3 linked regions of the Homo sapiens genome follow. The protein of the gene in region 3 interacts with the protein of the main gene of each other region in a pairwise test. Each region holds a gene or a part of one and is shown on either strand. Other genes may lie near its edges.

The links. The genes of interacting proteins can lie anywhere in the genome.
Region 1: the proteins of PDCD10 (region 3) and FAM118B interact in binary tests that used the Homo sapiens proteins (3 or more experiments, as listed by UniProt).
Region 2: the proteins of PDCD10 (region 3) and PGCKA1 interact in binary tests that used the Homo sapiens proteins (3 or more experiments, as listed by UniProt).

The regions. Positions count from the first base shown.
Region 1 is NC_000011.10:126,235,770-126,242,796, forward strand, and holds part of FAM118B (protein FAM118B), read left to right. Parts: intron 1-160; exon of another isoform or gene 161-302; coding exon of another isoform or gene 303-486; intron 487-5,022; coding exon 5,023-5,275; intron 5,276-7,027. Other genes in the region: SRPRA (signal recognition particle receptor subunit alpha), read right to left, coding at 303-486. UniProt on the Homo sapiens protein: May play a role in Cajal bodies formation.
Region 2 is NC_000004.12:37,449,881-37,456,939, reverse strand, and holds the start of PGCKA1 (PDCD10 and GCKIII kinases-associated protein 1), read right to left. Parts: upstream 3,016-7,059; 5' UTR 2,900-3,015; intron 2,624-2,899; exon of another isoform or gene 1,846-2,623; intron 1,461-1,845; exon of another isoform or gene 1-1,460. UniProt on the Homo sapiens protein: Acts as a tumor suppressor. Acts as a tumor suppressor for colorectal cancer cell proliferation by targeting KEAP1/USP17/ELK1/CDK6 axis.
Region 3 is NC_000003.12:167,682,885-167,689,911, forward strand, and holds the end of PDCD10 (programmed cell death protein 10), read right to left. Parts: intron 4,810-7,027; coding exon 4,731-4,809; intron 4,433-4,730; coding exon 4,350-4,432; intron 1,506-4,349; coding exon 1,424-1,505; 3' UTR 414-1,423; downstream 1-413. UniProt on the Homo sapiens protein: Promotes cell proliferation. Modulates apoptotic pathways. Increases mitogen-activated protein kinase activity and STK26 activity. Important for cell migration, and for normal structure and assembly of the Golgi complex.

The DNA.
Region 1 (7,027 bases), on a different chromosome or scaffold from region 3:
CGGCCTCCCAAAGTGCTGGGATTATAGGCGTGAGCCACTGTGCCCGGCCTGGTTCAATCCACTTTTAATATTTACATTATTACGACTGTATAAGTAGTATTCATAGCTGAGCCTAATGCGTAACGATTATGTTTCCTTTCTTGCCCATTTTTTTTGCTTATGTCATTAAAGACTGTCTTTTTTGTTTGTTTGTTTGCTTTCAATGTATTCTCACATGCTCTGACAGAAGAATAAATCTCCTAGCTATACTGAAACACACCGATAACTTGCTGGTTTGTGTCATGGATTCTTCCTTCTGGATGCTAGTCCACTCTGGACACTTGTTCTCCAGTCCTGTTGCGTTCCTGATATTTGCTATTTCCCATTCCCATCATCCTGATAATTTCCTTTACATCTCTCCTGTATCGATTCTCTGTTTGCTGGATCTCATGTCCTCTTTTTTGGTGCACGCCTTTGTTTTCCTGAAGCATGTCCTTGCATAGCCTCCTAAGTAAGGACCCATAGGAGAAAATTATTTGGACATATTTGAAAAGGTCTTTATCATACACTTACATTCATTTGATGGTTTGACTGAGTATAGAATTTTTAGTATCTCTCATTCATACTCTGCTAACATCTAAGTATTCCTGCCAAAATAGCCACTCTGTTCTGATTCCCAATCCTTTGTATTGTATGACCTCTTTCCCTGTTTTTTGTTTTGTTTTGTTTCATTTTTGTTGTTGTTGTTGTTCATTAGAAGCTTATAAGGATCATTATTTTATTCTCAGTAACCTGAAATTTCACAGTGATGTATCTTGTCATATGAATCTAGACACCGGGCAGCTCTTTAAAGCTGGCAACTAGTACCTTCACTTTGGAGAAGTTGACTTATATTACTTTTTTGATACTTTCCATTACAATGTTTTTTCTATTCCACATTTTTTTAAAACTCTTGTTATTCAGATGTTGGACTTCTTGTATTAAGTCTCTAATTTTTTATGTGTTGCTTTATTTTTTTCCCCCCCATTTCGTTTTCTTAAATTTAGCTTTCTCGGGGGTTCTCTGTTTTATCTTGTGGATTTAAAAATTTCTGTTGCGTTATTTTTGATTTATGAAGTCTTTTTGTTTGTTCATTTTTTCATAGCACTCTGTTTATGTTTCACAGATGCTTTTTTTTTTTTTTTTTTTTAGACAGAGTCTCACTGTCTCCCAGGCTGGAGTGCAGTGACACTATCTCGGCTCATTGCAAGCTCTGCCTCCCGGGTTCACACCATTCTCCTGCCTCAGCCTCCCGAGTAGCTGGGACTACAGGCGCCCGCCACCATGCCCGGCTAATTTTTTGTATTTTTAGTAGAGACGGGATTTCACTGTGTTAGCCAGGATGGCCTTAATCTCCTGACCTCATGATCCACCTGCCTCAGCCTCCTAAAGTGCAGGGATTACAGACGTGAGCCACCGCGCCTGGCCTTTTTTTTTTTTTTTTTTTTTTTGAGATGGAGTCTCGCTCTGTTGCCCAGGCTGGAGTGCAATGGTGCAATCTCAGCTCACTGCAACCTCTGCCTCCCGGGTTCAAGCAATTCTCCTGCCTCAGCCTCCTGAGTAGCTGGGATTACAAACGTGCTCTACCACACCTGGCTAATTTTTATTTTATTTATTTATTTATTTTTTAAATAAAGACAGGTTTTCACCATGTTGACCAGGCTGATCTCAAACTCCTGACCTCAAGTGATCCACCTGCCTTGGCCTCCCAAAGTGCTGGGATGACAGGCGTGAGCCACCCCACCTGGCCAATTTTAAAAAAATCTAGGCCAGGCTCGGTGGCTCACGCCTGTCATCCCAGCACTTTGGGAGGCTGAGGTGGGCAGATCGTGAGGTCAGGAGATCGAGACCATCCTGGGTACCTGGGTAACATAGTGAAACCCTGTCTCTACTAAAAAAAAAAAAAAAAAAAAAAAAAAATTAGCGGGGCGTGGTGGCGCGTGCCTGTAATCCCAGCTACTCGGGAGGCTGAGGCAGGAGAATCACTTGAACCTGGGAGGCGGAGGTTGCAGTGAGCTGAGATTGTGTCACTGCACTCCAGCCTGGCAACAAAGCTAGACTCCGTCTCCAAAAAAAAAAAAAAAAAGAAAAGAAAAAATATATGTGAGGATATCATTGTTTTCTTTTAATTTTTTTTTCTCCTTCCCATACTATCTCTTATTTCCTTCAGATTTCTCTCTACCTGCTAGTTTGTTTGGTATAACTGTTATGTTGGGGGCTTTCCTCAGATGTGAGGTGACCCTTGTTTGTCTGCCCATTTTTAACAGAAAACACCAAAAAGCCAATGGAAGAGGCCGGGTGCGGTGGCTCACGCCTGTAATCCCAGCACTTTGGGAGGCCAAGGCAGGCGGATCACTTGAGGTCAGGAGTTTGAGACCAGCCTGGCCAACCTGGTGAAACCCCGTCTCTACTAAAAATACAAAAATTGGCTGGGTGTGGTGGCACGTGCCTGTAATCCCAGCTACTCGGGAGGCTGAAGCAAGAGAATCACTTGAACCCAGGAGGCAGAGGTTGCAGTGAGCCAAGATTACGAGATTCCATCTCAAAAAAAAAAGCCAGTTGGAGAATCTGTGTGTACATAAGGGGCTTGGTCCCAGACTCTATGTAGAGTTAAGGAATTCCCACCTGTCAGAATCTGCAGGTTTTTCATCTCATACTGGCCATTTTCCTGAAAGAGGAATCGTCCTCATTTCCTAACTGGATGGGGGATAGGGGTGCAGGTACAGAGTTGATTCCTAGAGTCTGAAAAGCTTCCTCTGGGGAAAGAGAGTTGGGGGAAATCTTGTATTTTATATACAGACTTTTACTTAATCCCCACCCTCAGCTGTGTGCAGTGTTCTCAGATATAGTCCTCTGGTCAACCTCTGCAGAAGGGAAACCTCTAGCCTGCTGAAAGTTGTAACTGTTAAAGGCTTGTAACTGATTCTCCTATTTTAGCCCCACCAGCCCCTCTACCTTTAGATGTACATGAACATTCCCAAAATTCTACCAAGGGAATCGGCCTTTGCATTACAATTGGTAAAATGTTGTTGCCCTTTGACCTCTGTTGTCTGCTGTCATCTTTACCTAGCCTACTTTTTAGGTATATATACCCGCTAAAAAAAAAAAGTAACTATTATTTGGTGGTTTACAAAGAACCAGTAATAAAACACAATTGTTAAATGTTTTATTTTTAAGTGGAAGTCTTTTTTTTTTTTTTTTTCGAGACAAGGTCTTGTTCTGTCACCCAGGCTGGAGTGCAGTGGCACAAACACAGCTCACTGCAACCTCAGCCTCCTGGGCTCACGTGATCCTCCCGTGAACTTAGCCTCCCAGGTAGCTGGGACTACAGACGTGCCTAATTTTCTTTTTCGTTCTTTCTTTGTTTGGCAGAGATGGGGTCTCACTAAGTTGCCTAGGCTTGTCTCAAACTCCTGGGCTCAAGCTCAGCCTCCTAAAGTGCTGAGATTACAGGCATGAACCACTGCACTTAGCCAAATTGGAAGTCTTAATTAGGAAGAATTATAGTTCAAATCTGTATGTTATATAAAAAAATACAGTACAACAGTATAAAATGAAAAGTAAAAAGTCCTTATTCTCTGCTATCCCCATTTAACCACTATTTATACATCTTGTGAATCCTAGAAATTTTCTATGTGTGTGTATATTTGTTTATGTGGATTTGTGTATGCTTCACTATCTTGATTGCTCTGAACTGAAACTCATTTTTCATCATTTGCTTCTAACATCTATTATTAATGTCTTTTCTAGTAGACTGATCTTTCAAGATCAGGGACTCCATTTTGTTCATGGATACATGACTCCCGTAGTGTCTGGTACATACAGGTTTTCCTTTCCTGCCTCAGCCTCCCTAGTAGCTGGGACTACAGGTGTGCGCCACCAGACCCAGCTAATTTTTGTATTTTTAGTAGACACAGAGTTTCACCATGTTGGCCAGGCTGGTCTTGAACTCCTGACCTCAAGTAATCAGCCCACCTTGGCCCCCCAAAGTGCTGGGATTACAGGCGTGAGCCACTGCTCCTGGCCTCGGTTTTTCATATTTGTTGAATGACTGAATGCAGAAGCTCGGGTTAGGGAAAGCAGTTTTAGAGGCTGTGTCCCCAAAACCAGGTTTCCCAAGGCTTGAAAGTGCTATTCCTTTCTTGAGTTATGCCAAAATGCTGATCCTCTCCATTTTATTATTTAGACAAAAAGGTTGGGGAGAAGCCATTTTCAGGGGAGGGGAACATGCCATCAGCAAAAATTAATGTGAAGGAACATATTTCAAGCAGGGATAGTCTCCAGAATGAAAGAGAGGGGAACAAAAACAAAAATTAGCACCCATGCTGTCTCACATATGGGCCTCAGAACAGAGAAGTCTGTCTCTGCTTATCATGGTAAGAAAGGAATGTTTTTCACTTTTTGTCATGTCCTTTGATTAGTTAATGTCTTTATTTAGGTATGTAGGGCCCCTGTGTTTTCAGAATTCTATTGGCCACTTTTTTTTTCTTTTTTTTTTTTGCCTGAGGTTAATGTTTACAAAATTCAGAATTAAATTTTGTATTGCCTTTCCCCTAGTGTTTTACATTTCTCAATAATAGGAACTTAATTTGTCCTGGGGTTCTTTTCTCTTTTTCTAGAGTACAAATCAAACGTCTTCTTTTGAAATTTAATACTGGTTTAAAATATAATTTAGTTGGCAGAAGTCAGCTGAGCTATAGTCTATTTGGATCTTTTCCTAATATTAGTGGAATTTCTTAGGTTGAGAGGACTAGGAAGGGAAAACTGATTTTAAGATTGGTTTTGGGATTCCTGAAATAGGTTTATGACTTGTTTTTCAGCAAGCACTGACACAATATTCTGGTTGTTTTCTTTAAACTGCTTTGGAAAGGTGTCAAAAACTGCTGTTCATCTTCTTTGCAACTATAAAAGTTAGCTAAAAACTGTAACCTGAGTCAGACAGTCTTTCTGTGTGCCTCATATCTATTGGATATTCCAATCCTCTCATTTGTTTTGCTTTTATAGGAAGCTGCTTCCAAGCTTAAAAACTAAGAAGCCTCGAGAACTTGTGCTAGTGATTGGAACAGGCATTAGTGCTGCAGTTGCGCCCCAAGTTCCAGCCCTCAAATCCTGGAAGGGGTTAATTCAGGCCTTACTGGATGCTGCCATTGATTTTGATCTTTTAGAAGATGAGGAGAGCAAAAAGTTTCAGAAATGTCTCCATGAAGACAAGAACCTGGTCCATGTTGCCCATGACCTTATCCAGAAACTCTCTCCTGTGAGTACCCTAGTATGTGCCACAGTATTTGGAATTTCCTAAAATTTAACTATCACAACTAGCATGATTTGGCTGTCAAAACTAGCATGCCAAATGTAACAGGGATATTCATTTACAGCTTGTAGGTTTCCATAACATTTGACTCTTCTGCGCAATGTCTGTTTATGGACCCTACTCAGGACAGTTGTCTTAACCCCATTTCACTGTGTGTCTATGAGAGAGAAATGATGTTGAGGACTTTATATGTACAAATTACCACTGTGTTTTGAATTTATTTTTTTCCTGCATCACTACTATAAAAGCTGTGTTCTGTGGCATCCATGCCTTGTATGGAATCCCACAAAGATTGGAGATAATTTTATCATTTTATACATGAAACAAAACCAGTTTTTAGTGTTCTTTTTAGAGGTAATAAGTCAAAATATTTAGAAGGAATTGCACCTTATTTTACCAAACTGAGTTGGATAAAAGGACTCCCTGTCTTGCTTTGTCTGAAAATTTATTTATTTATTTATTTATTTTTTGATGGAATCTTCTTCTTGTCACCCAGGCTGAAGTTCAGTGGTTCGATCTCGCCTCATGGCAGCCTCCGCCTCCTGGGTTCAAGCGATTCTCCTGTCTCAGCCTCCTGAGTAGGTGGGATTACAGGCATGTGCCACCATGCCCAGCTAATTTTTGTATTTTTAGTAGAGACAGGGTTTTGCCATGTTGGTCAAGCTGGTCTCGAACTTCTGACCTCAAGTGATCTGCCCACCTCAGCCTCACAAAGTGCTGGGATTATAGGCATGAGCCACTGCACCCAGCCTGTTTTAAAATCTTAAAAATCAGGCTTCTAGGGCCAGGCGTGGTGGGCACCTGTAATCCCAGCTGCTCAGGAGGCTGAGGCAGGAGAATGGCTTGAACCCGGGAGGTGGAGGTTGCACTGAGTTGCGGTCGCGCCACTGCACTCCAGCCTGGGCGACAGAGGAAGACTCCGTCTCAAAAAAAAAAAAAAAAAAAGGAATTAATGGGGTTTTAAAGAGTTCATGGAATCTCCATACACTTTATAAAAATTAAAAATGGATCAAAGACCTAAATATGATACCTAAAACTGTAAAACTCTTAGAAGAAAATACAGATTTAAAATTTCATGACTGGATCTGGCAGTGGTTTTTTAGACATGACACCAAAAATGCAAAAAACTAAAGTAAAAAAAAATATAGATAAACTGGACTTCTCCAAAGTTAAAAACTGTTAGGCTGAAAGGACACTGTCAAGAAAGTGAGCCGGGGATGGTGGCTCATGCCTATAATCCCAGAACTTTGGGAGGCCAAGGCAGGAGAACTGCTTGAGGGCATGAGTTCAAGACCAGCCTGGACAACATAGTGAGACCCTGTCTCTACCAAAAGAAAAAAAAAAGTGAAAAGACAGCTTCCAGAATGAGAAAATGTTAGCAAATCACATATCTCATAGGCGTATAATATCCAGAATCTATAAAGAACTACTGTAACTTAATAAAGGCTAATAATTCAATTTTAAAATAACGATGTAGTTGAATAGACATTTCTCCAAAGAAGATACACAAACGGCCAATAAGTGCATACGAAAAGATGTTCAGCGTCATTAGTCATTAGGAAAATACAAATCAAAACCACAACAAGGTGCCATTTCACACCCGCTGGCATGACTAGAATCAAGAAGACAATAATAAGTGTTATTAAGGATGTGGAGAAATTGGAACCTTTGTGGGAATGTAAAGTGATGCAGTTGCTT
Region 2 (7,059 bases), on a different chromosome or scaffold from region 3:
TGGGTTCTTACAGTTAAAATCTTAAATACCAGTGCTTCTTTAACTATCTTTCGAATCAGTTCACTTCTCTCTCTCCTCTAATTTAAATTTTTGCCGCAGCTGCCTTTGGTCTTGGTTGTATCTTTCCTGTTTCATTCTCATTGCAGCCTGCATGAACTCTCTAAAATAGAGATCTGCTGTGCTTAAGATCCTTCAATGGTTTCTCCCAAGATATTGGGATCTCTGAAGACAAGGACTGTGTCCCCAGAAACTCATCGACTCTCTGGTGTCTCTGGGTCTACGCACATGATGTCTCCAAGGCCAGGTCAGGGTTTTATTAAATTTTGTAGAACCACTTGTACACTGAACAGAACAGAGTTCAGCACTTCTGATAAAGTTTGAGTGAGATACAATATTCCTTTTGTCATTTGTTAATATTCATTGCAGCTCTGGAACATCTTTTCTACAATGCCTGACAACACTGAGTCAGAGTTTTAATTTTCTGTTTCAGGACACGTATTCATTGGCTTGGTGTTTTACGTATGTTTTAGGAAAGGATTATTTGATAATCTACAGTCCTGAAGATTTTAACTAACCTCTGTGGGACTATGATATTCTCGGGTGAAAAGGGTACAAGTAGATGAGCGATTTCATTTTCAGTTTATTCTCTTAAATAGCAGTCAGAGTAAGAAAGGCTACAACTGGAGACACAGGATGGCTCAATGGTTAAGAGCAGGCACTCGAGAAAGACTACATCTGACCTGCACATAGGTGAAGACTCCAAGTCGGCTTCCCCTAGGATGACCCCTTTAACTCAACTCTTTTCTACACACCTACAAAGTCTCTCTGTAAGCATGTAATCTAATGACCAAAAAGAATGACCAAAAAGAAAATCTGCCTAATGACCAAGAAAGAAAAGCAGGACATAGGTACTAGTTACTATTTAACCAAGACTGTAAAAGATCCCAAGATTCAGGGTTACCAGAAAAATTGTGTAACTAGGGGAATGTGAAACACAGTCTAGGGAGAGGAAACCTAGCTACTGGAAGGCTGGTATTCAATTATTTGGAAACTGGCGTCTATTCCAAGAAGCACCGTGAATGGGCTTCCGGGCACCAAGAGCGGGCTGTTCTAGGAGGAAAGGGGCCGGCCCTACCTGTGCTCTGCCCTTGGGCTGCAAATGGATTCTGGCCGGAGCTTAGCCAGGTTGTATTTCCGGCTCAGAGAGGGTCTGGGTGGGACGTCAAGGGAATCATTCCATGTTTAGGATAATGGAACGTGTTGAGTTGGTATGCAAGGTTTTGTCTTCAATCCCAGATATCCAAAAAGCTCTTTGAAACACAGGAAAGATTGGCCCTATTTCTCTTTAGGTATCATTATTTATCTAAATCTCCGGAGCCATTGAGGACCAAGATCATACTTGCTGAATAAATGCACGGAGCAGGATCAGAGGATAGACACAGAATGGGCCAAGAAGAGAAGTAAGCCACACCTTCCCTTCCTGTCTCAGCATCTGTTCCATTTCTGCTCAGTGACCCAGGCAGCTTGCTGTTAGCTGACTCTTCACACTTTAGGGAAATACAAATAACTCCAGAACTTAACTTTACCTTTGAGCTTCAAATTGTTTCAATTATGTACCTTGTTTCAATTATCTGCCTCCTGACAGTGTTTCACAGCTGGGACCAGTAAGGTGGTCTATGATCTTTAACATCTGTCTTATCCTTCCTAAAATAGTATCAACTGAAGGATTAAATGGGGAAGGGGGAGGGGTAGGCAACAAATATAGACTCTATTATGTTTAAAAGCAGTAACCGCTTTCCATTTCTTTCTCATTCAACTCTCAAATGCTTCTCTTCTTTTCTCCAGATATTATTCCTCATAAGAGCTTGCTTGATTGCAACCACCAAGGACATCCACAAACCAGGGCAAGAAGGACCATCCGTAATTCTTTCCCATAAATAGTGACAGGAAGAAAATAAACGCCCTATTCTTCAATGATTTGAACCACCTCTGGAGCACAAACTTTCTCTAAATTCACAGGGCAAATATCCATCATGGGGCAGGTATCTATGCTGCCATGGAAAGTAACATAAAATGTACTAAGTCATCACAGGGAGTTTTAATTTTGTTTTTAAGGTCAATTGCCATGCTGGGGTAAAAAGCATTGATCCTTGCCTTTTATCACCGGAAAAATTCTTCACCAGTACTTTGTGAAAATCTCGCCTCATCAGGGCTGCCAAGGTCAATGCAACCTAAGTAACCAAGCTGGGAGATGCTTGCCTAATTATTAAATATTTAGCAAACAGTTTGTGACTATTTAACTGTTTGCACCTGGCACCCTCTTTTCACTACGTGAGGCCTCCTGGCACCCTGACCTCTTCCCCCACCCCTACCCACTGCCCAGGCCGCCAGCACCCCTGGGGGGCAAATACCGGGACCCAAGGGCATTTCAAAGAAACAGCAGAGGTCACATTCCATTTCCTTTTTATTAAAAAACATACTTAAAATGGGGGAGGAGGGCACAGATCTAAGGTAAAATCTCTTGCAGTTTTTTCAAGTTCGCATGCACCGTTGAAAGTTCATTAGTTAGGGATTTAAAAGCAAAAATGTTTCACACAACCAATTAAACGCCAAGCTTTACAAACGCCTTGGTCTTTGGTTTTGGGAATCTGTAAAAGTCCGCCTCCCCCCACCCGAGTTTTGCCCCTTTTAGAGCCCCTTTGTTGAATTACGTGACTTTTCCCGAAGTCATCAAACTTTGAATTGCGTCTCTAATTTTTTTTTTCAGGGCAAAAGCAAATCAAGAAATTAAACTTAAAAGTAGGCGACTCGGAGAGAAGTGGGGGAAAGCTCGCCCCAAAGCCAAGTTCCGCAGGACTAAAGCCCTCTTTGCGCGCGCGGGGCGGGGGATTGTCCCTACCTGGGGCCAGACGGCGGCGGCGGCGGCGGCGGCGGGGTCCCGGCGCCCATGGCTTCGCCGGCCTCGGGCAGCCGCGCCGGGAGACGCTAGCGGCTCCGCGCTGCCCTGAGCCCGCCGAGCTCGCAGCGGCCGCCCCAGCGCTGTCATTGGGCCCGCGCGTCACGTGGCCCGGGCTGCGGGTGAGCCTTCCCGACACGCGTAACCCTTTACCTGCACGCCCCGAGGATGCGGCGGGGCTAGGGCTCGAAACCCTGGAGTACGATGTCCGACATCCCCGGGGCCGGGGTGGCAGTCCCGGGCGCACTGAAGCAGAAAATCCACGCGCTTGTTGGCCTCTGAGCACAAACGACCGCGCCAACCGCCTGCCATCACGGGAAACTCCGGGGTGCTTACTCCAATGTTGCGCTGGAGAGAAGGGAGCTTCCTATGATCAAGGGACTGGAGTACGGGGATACACAAAACAAATGCACCCGCTGGCAAATAGTTGTGTACTCCCAAACCCCGAGAACTTGGCATTTTTCAGTTTCCTCCTTATTTCTGGCATTCGCCGCCTAGACCTGCTGTGAGTTCCATGGCCAGCCCTGTATGAGCTACATGGACCTAGAAACAGCGGGGGCGCCACCACCACGATAAAAACCAGGGAAGTTGCACACACTCGCCTGCACCCTAAAGGCCCCAGGGGGAGTTCAATGAACTCCTGGTTCCCCGTCCCCTCCTCACCCACTCCCCCTCCATCCCTTTCTTTTCCTGAGGTCTTAGGGCATTGGCCACAAGACTGCATCCAATCTACTGAGTTCCACATTCGTAGCTGTTACAATCCATATACCTAAGGCGGGTGGAGAACTGACTCTGCTTAAGGACTGGACATTCTTTTCACCTGTGCTCCAAAGCAAATGCTGAGCTTGCCAAAAAAAGTGTTAAGCAACTGCGCCACCTAGCTTACCCTCTTCTCTCTTCTTTTCAACTCATCCAGCAAGAGAATAAAATAGGATATTGGAGAGGCATCTGGACAGAGTATTATCTAAGGATGGACATAGTGTCCTTGGGTTTTCAATGTATCTACTTTAATGATGCCAGCCCCATTCACATGATATTTGCCAGGCTTTTGAGAATTTGAACACTCCATTTTTTGAATCCTTCTAATTTTGCAGTGCTGGGATTGCACGCTGTAAAGTGTTAGATTTTTGCAGGAAGTTATATGTGGTTTTACATCCTTTGTCACAATGAACGGCACTCATGTCCAACTTATAGTCGACACTTAATTGTCTACAGGATATTGATACATTTATCAAGTAGGTTATCTGTCGAAAAAGGGGTTGGTATTTGTATTGGGTTTCATTTTATTTATTTATTTATTATTATTTGAGACAGGGTCTGGCTGTTGCACACAGGCTGGAGTGTGATGCGATCTCAGCTTACTGCAACCTCCTCCTCTGGGGATCAAGGGATCCTCCCACCTCAGCCTCTGGAGTGCCTGGGGCTACAGGCTCATGCTACCATGCTCGGCTAATTTTTGTATTATTATTATTATTATTACTATTATTATTATTATTTTTGTGGAGACTAGGGTGGGGGTGGGCTCTCCTAAACTTGCCCAGGCTGGTCTTGAACTCCTGAGGTTAAGCAATCCGCTCGCCTCGGCCTCCCAAAGTGCTGGGATTGCAAGCTGAGCCACCGCGCGCCCCAGCCTGCCTTAGATTTTAAAGTGCAGTTCCTAGACTAATAGCATCGGCATAATCTGAGAGAATGTAGTAAAAATGCAAATTCTTGGGACCCACCCCAGACGTATTGATTCAGAAATAGTTGGGGAGGGAGGGTGAAGAAATCTGTGTTTTAGCAAGTGGTACCTACTCCAGTTTGCGAACCGTTGCTCTGAATATGCACAGGTAGCTGGCGAAGTTCCCCTCATCTATTAAATAGTAAGGGCTGGCATTCTATAAAGCTAGAGGTGCTGCTTTTATTTGTATCCCTAGATTACCAGTTTTATGTAATCTGTCATGTTGATACACTGAAACTGAACCCTCCATGTGTCCATACAACGTGTAATCTGTACTTCTTGCAGATCTCTTGGAATGCCAAATTGAGATCTGAGGGGCCCTTGTAAAACATATGGAAGAAAAACCTATGGTTTCTTGATGCACACCAGGGTGAAAACACCATGATTCACTTCATTTTTTAGGTGTGCCCATGTTTTCACTGACATGTAAATTGTTCCCAGCCAATGAGTCATGAAAGATAGGAAAGCTAATTTTTTTGAGTGGATTTATCAACATGGTTCCAAATTTGTGAAAGAGTTCTAAAAAACAAACAACATTAAAAACATTATGGTATCCGTTTATGTTATAGCCCAAAAAACTCCCCACACCATATTAGGCATTGCAGTAAGGGCTCCTTGCAATCCATTGCAATCTCCTTACTGAGAAAGAAAGAACTGAGTGGGTTTTTATTTGAGTTTTCTCCATGGGATAGATAGACTATTTCTAATGGGCTAGATGGATGTCTTACTTTTAAACTCTCTAGGTCCAAGTTTGTTTTGTGATTTTCCCCCACTTTCATCCCCTGTTCACTTTACATTTGTAATTCTATCTACTCAATTCCAATTGGAACTGGAATTATTTGAGTTTTCCCTCCCCTTCATCAAACACCTCTATCCATTAAGCCCTGAAATAAATCTTGAATTGCCCCTACTCTAAGCAGGTTCTAAGATCAGGTTCTAACACTTTCTAACTGAGATCATGGCCATGGTCTTTACTGGTCTCCCAGCTTCTGATCTTTTCCATCTGAAAGCCATCTGACAAAGTAACTGCCCTTCCCCAAAACTTTTTTTCCCAGCTCCCTGTTGAAACCAGCGCAATTTTCCAACAAGCCAAATGCCCATAGCACTGAAGCTTGAGAAACTTACACCTGCTGCCTGTTGACCAATTCCTCTTCCTTAACCCTCCCTAATTCCTGTTTTCCTATAGGAGGTTACAGTGAGATGCTAGACACCTGCTGCCTATTGAGCAACTCCTCTTCCTTGCCCTGCCTGTTTTCTCCCCCCATATAAACCCCAACTTTAGCCAGGGGAGATTCAGATTTGAGTCTTGTCTCCTGTCTCTGGCTGATATCACCCATAATAAAGCCTTCTTCCCTGACAATACTCATTGCCTTAGTGATTGGCTTTCTGTGTAGTGAGCAACAGGACCTAGGCTGGGCCCCTGGCTTTCAGTGACACTATTGACTACTGAATAAAGTCTAAAATCCCAACAGCATTTGAAGTCGCCTGAAATATGCTTCAATGCCCATTTTTGCTCATGCAGCTTCCTTTACCTGAAATGTCTCTCTGACATTGACAGCTAAGTCCTAATTATTCTTCTAGCCTCAGCTCTATCTCCTCTGGGTCAACCTTTTCGATATTCAGGTAGTGTTAATTGCTCCTCTGTAGTGTATCCTCAGCACCTGGCTCTCACTCTTACTAACTTTGAAATCAGTCTCATCTGGTTTAGCTGTGTCTCTTCTAGACTGTAGGGTTCTGGATGGCAGGAGTCATGCGTGACTTTTCAAATCATTCCAGGATCTAGCATAATGCCTTGGGCATAGCAAGCATACAGTGTTGACTGTTGTGTTCTTGGCTCTAGGAAAGAAGATATTTAAACAAACTCTATTTATTTGAAATGCTTTTTTGCAAATATTTATTAACTTCTCTACATTTTCTTTGAGAACTAAAAGGAGAGGGGTTTAGCCTTTTCAACCTAAAGATATTACCCTTTGTAAGTAATGGAATTGTTTTCAGTGGTGGTAAATTTTGAACACGTTAGTCTCAGCCATGTGATGCAGGCAATAAACCAGAATAATTTATTTTCGTAACACATTAAAGTTTCTCTGAGAACAATTATTTCATGACAACTAGATACTAGCTTTCAGATTATTTCCTATGTATCATCACTTAAGCTCACCAATACTCCTCTGTTTCTGTTTTTTAAAAATATTTTTTGGTGCGTGTGTGGATTCTCAGATCCAAGAGGCAAGAGATGGAAGAAAGGGCATGTGGGAAGGCTCCCCTTGGTCCTGCTCGTTCGCGCAAAGGGAATTTATGAGAGAGACAACTCCTCAGTCATCACCCTTCTTCTCCTTCCTCCCCATCCTTCTATTAATGAATTCATCAACTATTTCTGTATACC
Region 3 (7,027 bases):
AACAGTGTCTTTTTTCTTCATATATCCACAAGTCTATTCGGCAAATGATCACCCATCTACCTCCAAGAGTGAATGATAGTTTATGCCAAAAATAAATAAAGATCAGCATTCTATTTGTCTTACTGGCTACATATCTTTGAAGAAAAAAAAAAATCAGGTCAGTAAAATGTTCATTAATTAAGAGATTTCATCCAATTTTCATCTAATTGCCTATTTTTTTTTGCTCCTTTCAACATATTTTCATTTACATTTAACAGGATGTTCTACTTTTATGGTGCCAATGATAATTCTTTAAAAATCTGTTTTTTAAAATGGAGAAAAAATAAAATAACTTGAGTTGCATAACAGCAAAAAAATATACTGTCAACAGAAACTTAGTTTAACGTCTAAAATCTTTATAAAAGATAAGCAAATTCTGATTTTTTCCCTTTATTTTATAATTGAAAAATGAAACCACTTAACATGAACACTTGATACATAATTTCCTTAAAACTTCTCTATGGTGAAATAAAACTGTACCTAGTTGAAGAGTGTATATAATATTAACACTCATGACAATTTCAATCCAACCGTTGATATAGCTTCAAATTACTATTAATTGTGGCTATTTTTTGGGAAAAAATTGTGCAAAGCTTATGAGGGCCCAGTATACGAAAGGCTTAATTTTTAAGAGTCAAATCTACATTTGTCACAAGAGTTCAAAAAGTGGCATTATAGTGCAAAAACACTAGAAAATGCTATCTCTTACTCATAAGTCGTTTAAAACAGGTTGGAAATCATATAAAAATACTCAGTACCTTATAAGTAATTAACAAAAATATTTCCATTGACTACTCTGTGTCCAAAGTGATTAAGGACAAAAATAGAAATTCTTGCTTTATTATTTGATAAACTGCTGATAAGCTCCCATTAGAAGTTTTTTAGACATTACACCAAGTTGTCTTGGTCTTCTGTTCATATATATATATATATATATATATATACACACATATATATATGCATTTTTTCAAGTAAAGAAATGTTTAACAGATGTAAACTATTTATTGAATATTTGCCACCAAATATTGTTAAATACATTATCTTGCAGCATATCGCTTTCAAGTTAAAATGTCAGAAACAAACACCAATATTTACAATTCTTTTAAGGAATGTTATATAATGACACATTAAGGCGTAAATTCTTTTGGCTTATAATTCTTAAAAGAATGATAATAGCAAAAGTGATGCAAAATCTTCAGTGTGAGATTATGATTAAGCTACATTTTACAAAAATATGGTGTAAGATGGCAATAATCCCATTCAACATCCTGGATTAGATCCCTTCAGGAGGGACTGATAATTTATACAGTCAAACTTTAAAATTTACAGATAAAGGCAGTTCAATACTGCCACTGAGAAGTACATCTCTTAACATATACAACTTTCAGGCCACAGTTTTGAAGGTCTGAAGTATTAAGTTGGTTTGATGAATTAGTCGGTTGGCACTTACGAACACATTTATTGCCCTGTTTAAAAAGAAAAGAATAAGCATTAATTTCATCCAAAAAATTCACCCTTTTAAGATTTATACTATTAACAGTAGCAATGGAATCAATTTTAGAAAAAAAAAAAAGACAAGTTAGTATTATTAAAACTTTTATTCCAATTTAGGATATAATAGTCTTGCATCATTTTAAACTATCTAGTAATTACTGCCCCCTGGTGGTTCTGACTGGTAATAAAATGTTGGAGGACTGCTAATGATAGTGCCTCAACAACCCAGTTCATTTATAGGTGGAACAAGTTAACTGGCCAAAAGGAGGATTCAGATGTGGTCTCCAGCTGTGGTTTCATAGAAGTTAACAAGTAAAATCCAGCAAAGTATCATAATCTCAAAATTTGTAATTAATGGGCATAATACTCAAGAAAAATCTAATTACTTCCAATCTGATTCATCCCAATCTCTTTATCTCCTTAAAAAAAGGTAGAAATTCTAAGCTACAAACTACTACAAACTACTTTTACTATAAACATACTTTTAAAACAAAATAATCATGCAGTTTCAAAATCTGGGAGCTGACAACATATAAAAATATATTCTTTAAAACTGGCTTTGAGCCCCACCACATTCTCCTAATGGCTCATCTTCATGCAGCTGGGATTCAGAGATGATGCCCTAGTCCCACTGTGTGGCCTCAACAGTTTCCTAGTATCATATCTAGCATGCACCCGCATCCTAGACATTTCTCAAAAGAGAAGGCCCAGGGACTGGACCTGGTGGCTCGCACCTGTAATCCCAGCACTTTGGGAGGCCAAGGTGGGCGGATCATGAGGTCTCTTGGAGTGTGAGACCAGCCTGGCCAACATGGTGAAACCTTGTCTCTACTAAAAATACAAAAATTAGCCGGGCATGGTGGCATGTGTCTATAATCCCAGCTCGGGAGGCTGAGGCAGGAGAATTGCTTGAACCCAGGAGCTGGAGGTCGCAGTGAGCCCAGATCCAGCCTGGGCAACATAGCAAGACTCTGTCTCCAAAAAAAAAAAAAAAAAAAAAAAAGAGAAGGGCCAGGAAGAAATAGCTGAATCAATGCAAATCCATCCCCCTACTGAAAGATGGCCTAAAGATCAGGTTCTATCAATAATTTTCTGTTTTGAGGAAACAGGTATAAAACTCAAGCACATTATTGATACACAAAGAACTGGAATTTTAAAAAGCTGCTGAATGGAGAGAAAGTAGTAGCAACGACACTGAATCCATATGCAGAGTAAATAATTTCAATTAATTAATGAAAATTAGTCTCTAAATTAATGTCTACCTTTCATTGTGCTTATTCCATAATAGTAATTTAAAATCAGAAATAATAATCCCATCATGTAAATTATTATTTTAATGTGTTTTTGGTTATTTGAGCTTAGCATAAATCAAATAAAAGTTTATTTTCAAAACACAAATGCCAGCTTATTAAACTAAGTCATCAAGGAGCATTTCCCTTAGACAAACCTGTGTATGGAACACCACCACAAAACAAGTAATAAAATTTAGCTCGATATCTCTAATTCATAATATAAATGTAAATACTTCAACCTGTTTGAACTGTTAAAAATGACTCTGAAAATTAACATAATTCTATCTAATGTATTTTTATCATTTTTAAATATTACTACAATAATACTGTAATGATGTGACATGAATATAGAGATCTTAAAACCTGAATAGCAGGATGGAATGATTGAGGTCTCTATTTACTTTTCTGACTTTAAGCACTGTTAAAAAATAATCTTGTTCAAAAAATTCTCACATTTGACTTGAAGTGCAAATAACTACCTATACGGCCAGACTTTCCATCAGTTTATACATTATACGTATGCATGTATGTATGTTAAAATATATAAAATCTCTTGGTTTTCTATAGTGCATCACAACCAATTATATATAAATTAAAAAATAATGTCCAATTTACATTTTAGTATATTTCCTATTTTATAGAATGATGCTGTGAAAGCCTCTTTCCAGGAGAGTGGGTCAAAACCCTTACAGCACTTTAAAAACATCTGGGGCACTTTTACAAAATATCTAAACCCTGACTCCACTCCCAGCCAACTGAATCAGAATCTCTGCAGGTGGGGCCTAGGCAGTGGGAATTTTTTAAAAACTGTCCTCAAGTGACTCTAATGCACAGAAAGGATTGACAACTATTGCTTTAACTTTAGTGCAGTAGTTCTCAATAGACCTGTAATGTATCACCTGAAAATTTCTAAGAAATGCAAATTCTTAGGCTCCATCCTAGACCTACGAAATCAGAAATTCTAGAAGTGGGACCCTCGAGCAATTTGCAATTTGACTGTAACAAGTCCTCCAGATGACTCTGATGCCACTAAAGTTTGAGAACCACTGTTTCAGGAGTGTATAAAGTAGGCCAATGAACTAAAATTGCTTTTACATTTTTAAATGGTTAAAAAACAAAAGAAGAATATTATATGACAGGTAAAAATTATTTCAAGATACTGAAATTTGAATTTTGTATAAAGTTTTATTAAAACACAGTCACACCCCCTTGTTTGTACATTGTCTATGGCTTGTTTCTGTACTACAACAGCAGAGATGGGTGGATAACGGCAACAGGCCCACCAAATCTAACATATTTACTACCTGGCTCTTTTCAGAAAGCGTCTGATAACTCCTGTTCTAGAAAGGAGTTATGGCTAGATTAGCAACCATTCATTTTCTATTGTTAATGGTCTGCCTTCATTATCAGTTGCCTGGAGTACTAATAATAAAATAAAAGGGCTTAATTTATGTGGTTTTCATATCATATAAAACCACATAATCTATTTAATTTTAAAAGTAAAGGATAAATTACAGTACTTACTTGCCATCTTTAAAATACGTTTTCAGAGTATCACTGAAACTTTTGGAGTACTTTACAAATTCTTTCTTTTGGTGTTCAAGTGCCTACAGTCACAAAATATAATAAGAAATAAAGTACTAAATAAGAGAAATAATCACAAAAGCCAAAGGCAAGGACAAGAGATTACACAGGATATGGGATGCACTTTATATGAATATTACTAATAAGCAATTGTGGAGTACTCACTTTTAAATAAAAAGGCATATTTAAATTCAAGAATAAACTCAATGGTTAATGACACAAAACTATTTCCAACAATCAATCTTATTTTTAAGTCAATAAAACAACTAGGCATAAACCAACATCTAGGGTGTCAACTAGCAAGGCTTCTACTAAACGTACCCTGCGGTTCTGGTATTGATATTTCTTGAAGACATTATTCACTGTATCAAGAAGTTCTTTTATTGCACTAGCTATATCCCTGTTGGGAAAAGAATAAAGAATATCAGCTACATTTGAAAGAAATTTGTGAGAGAAAAGAACATCAGCTACATTTGAAAGAAATTAAGTACACTCTTAATCTAATCACAGTACACTCTTAATTATGTTAAGCGCAATCACTTCAAGAACAGCCAGCCTTTTCGGCTAGCTGGTTGGAGTGGGGATTTTAGCCTATACCCCTCTGTAATCCTGATTCTCTTGCACTGCTGACCAAAGGTTGCCAACCAAGACCAACTTTCTCAAATCAATCACATTTCATTAAGCGTTCCTTACTCAAATTTATAAAAAGATAAACATTACCTATGCCTGTCTTTTCCCATTTTAAAATTTTTCTTTGCTCTGGCTAATGTAGCTAAATTCAAGCTACCATGTTCTCTACTTTTGTTATTTGAACAAGGAACAATTTTATAATATTCTGCATTACATATAACTCAATTCTGTATTTAACAATGCTGTATGCTAGATACCTATTAGTTTTGATGTTTAACATAAAATATTTCCTCCTCAGAAAATATTCCTCTCCCCTGAGGAAATATTCTTCCTCCCTTACTCTTTTACAGACACTTTTAGCTTCTATCTAGCAGCCAAATATCCTCCTCTTTCAAACACTTACTATCAGTCACTATTCCCTTTGGAAAATATTTAAATTACTAGAGGAGACAACATCACAATATTCTTGCACTTTAACCTTCCCAGCAATCATCCTTTGACTATATATGCATCATCACCTCCCTCCCCTTTCTAAAGAAAAAAAAGAAGAAATGAATAATTCTCATTTGAGTTGACTGTTCTTCCTATCCATGCACCATTTTTTCTGAACTTTTTTTTGCCTTTCTAACTAGCCCCTTTTGATTTCCACATTTTAACCTCATAGCAATTTTTTTCCGCCAAATTGAACTTGATGTAATTCTGCATTCTCAAATAGTCTCACATTCTCTGCGACAAACCTTCTTTTTCACAGTCATTCTCTTAGCTGTTAGTCACAACAAAAACTTCAAATGCAATGCAACTGTGAAGAAATGAATAAGATGGAAATCTGCACCATCCTAAACATAACATTTTATTACTAATACTAATTACAAATGCCAGATTTCAGTTATTTCCTATCTAAAACATTTCAACATTCCTATTTCAAGGGGAAAAAAACCTCAGTGTCCAGGTTTCTGTGTGCATGTGGGTGTTTCCCAGCATATTTTTCAGTAAATAAGCTTGTAGAAATTTTAAGAATTAAAAGCATACAGAATTTTGATATTTTTTAAAAAAGTATTTTAGAGTACTCTGAAGTAGTAATTCCATTTTCATTGATTATTTCAATAATATTTTACTTATTACCTCTCTCAGGTCAAACACTGGTATTGGGCTGAAACATTGAAACATTACATATTCAAGTAGGACAGTAAGTCTTACATAAATGTTATCTAATTTTTTTTTGCCTCTGGTTTAGTAACAGCAGTTTTTAATTAGATAACTATTCCTTTCATTTATGGCTTAAGTTGAATCTTTGTATATTGGTGTGATGGACATAAACCCACTATTGTTTAATAAAATGCTGTCATAGGACTATTCTGTGAGAAAAATTACAATTTCAACAAATAAAACATGTCAAATCTCTAAATATGCAAGCTTCTCCAAATCCACAATGGAGTTATTTAAAATGGAATATAATGGAGCAAATTACATAGTGATCAGACAGAAGTTTATATAGTCTTACTTTGTAGTGTATTTCAATATTCTGCTAAAGAGGAATAAAATGTGTTTCCGGGGCTAGTCATCAAAATGAGCGTATGTTTCATATACAATAACAGTGGCTAGATTCTACAAGTCAAAAGAGTGGGTCTGAAACATGTTGCCTCATGCACCTAGGGAGACAAAAACACAGGGGAGAAGAAGGGAGGGTTTTGCTGGACAAAAAAAGAAAGACCTGCTGATAAATACTGGAAATCTCTATTTTAAAAGGGGGTGGGGGGAGGCGCAACTCCTCAGGTGACTGCTGATGAGTCAGGTTTGAAAACTTGGAGCTAAGGTTTAATGCCTTATTGGAACAGAGCTCTCTGTCAACCAAGGCCATTTATTCCTAAGCCTCTGTTTGGACACGAGGCAAAAGACTGTTAAATGCCTACCAAATTGTAGAAAAAATGTTCTCTAGAAACAATCTGCAGCAATGTATGTCAAATATTATGTTATCCATATGTACACAG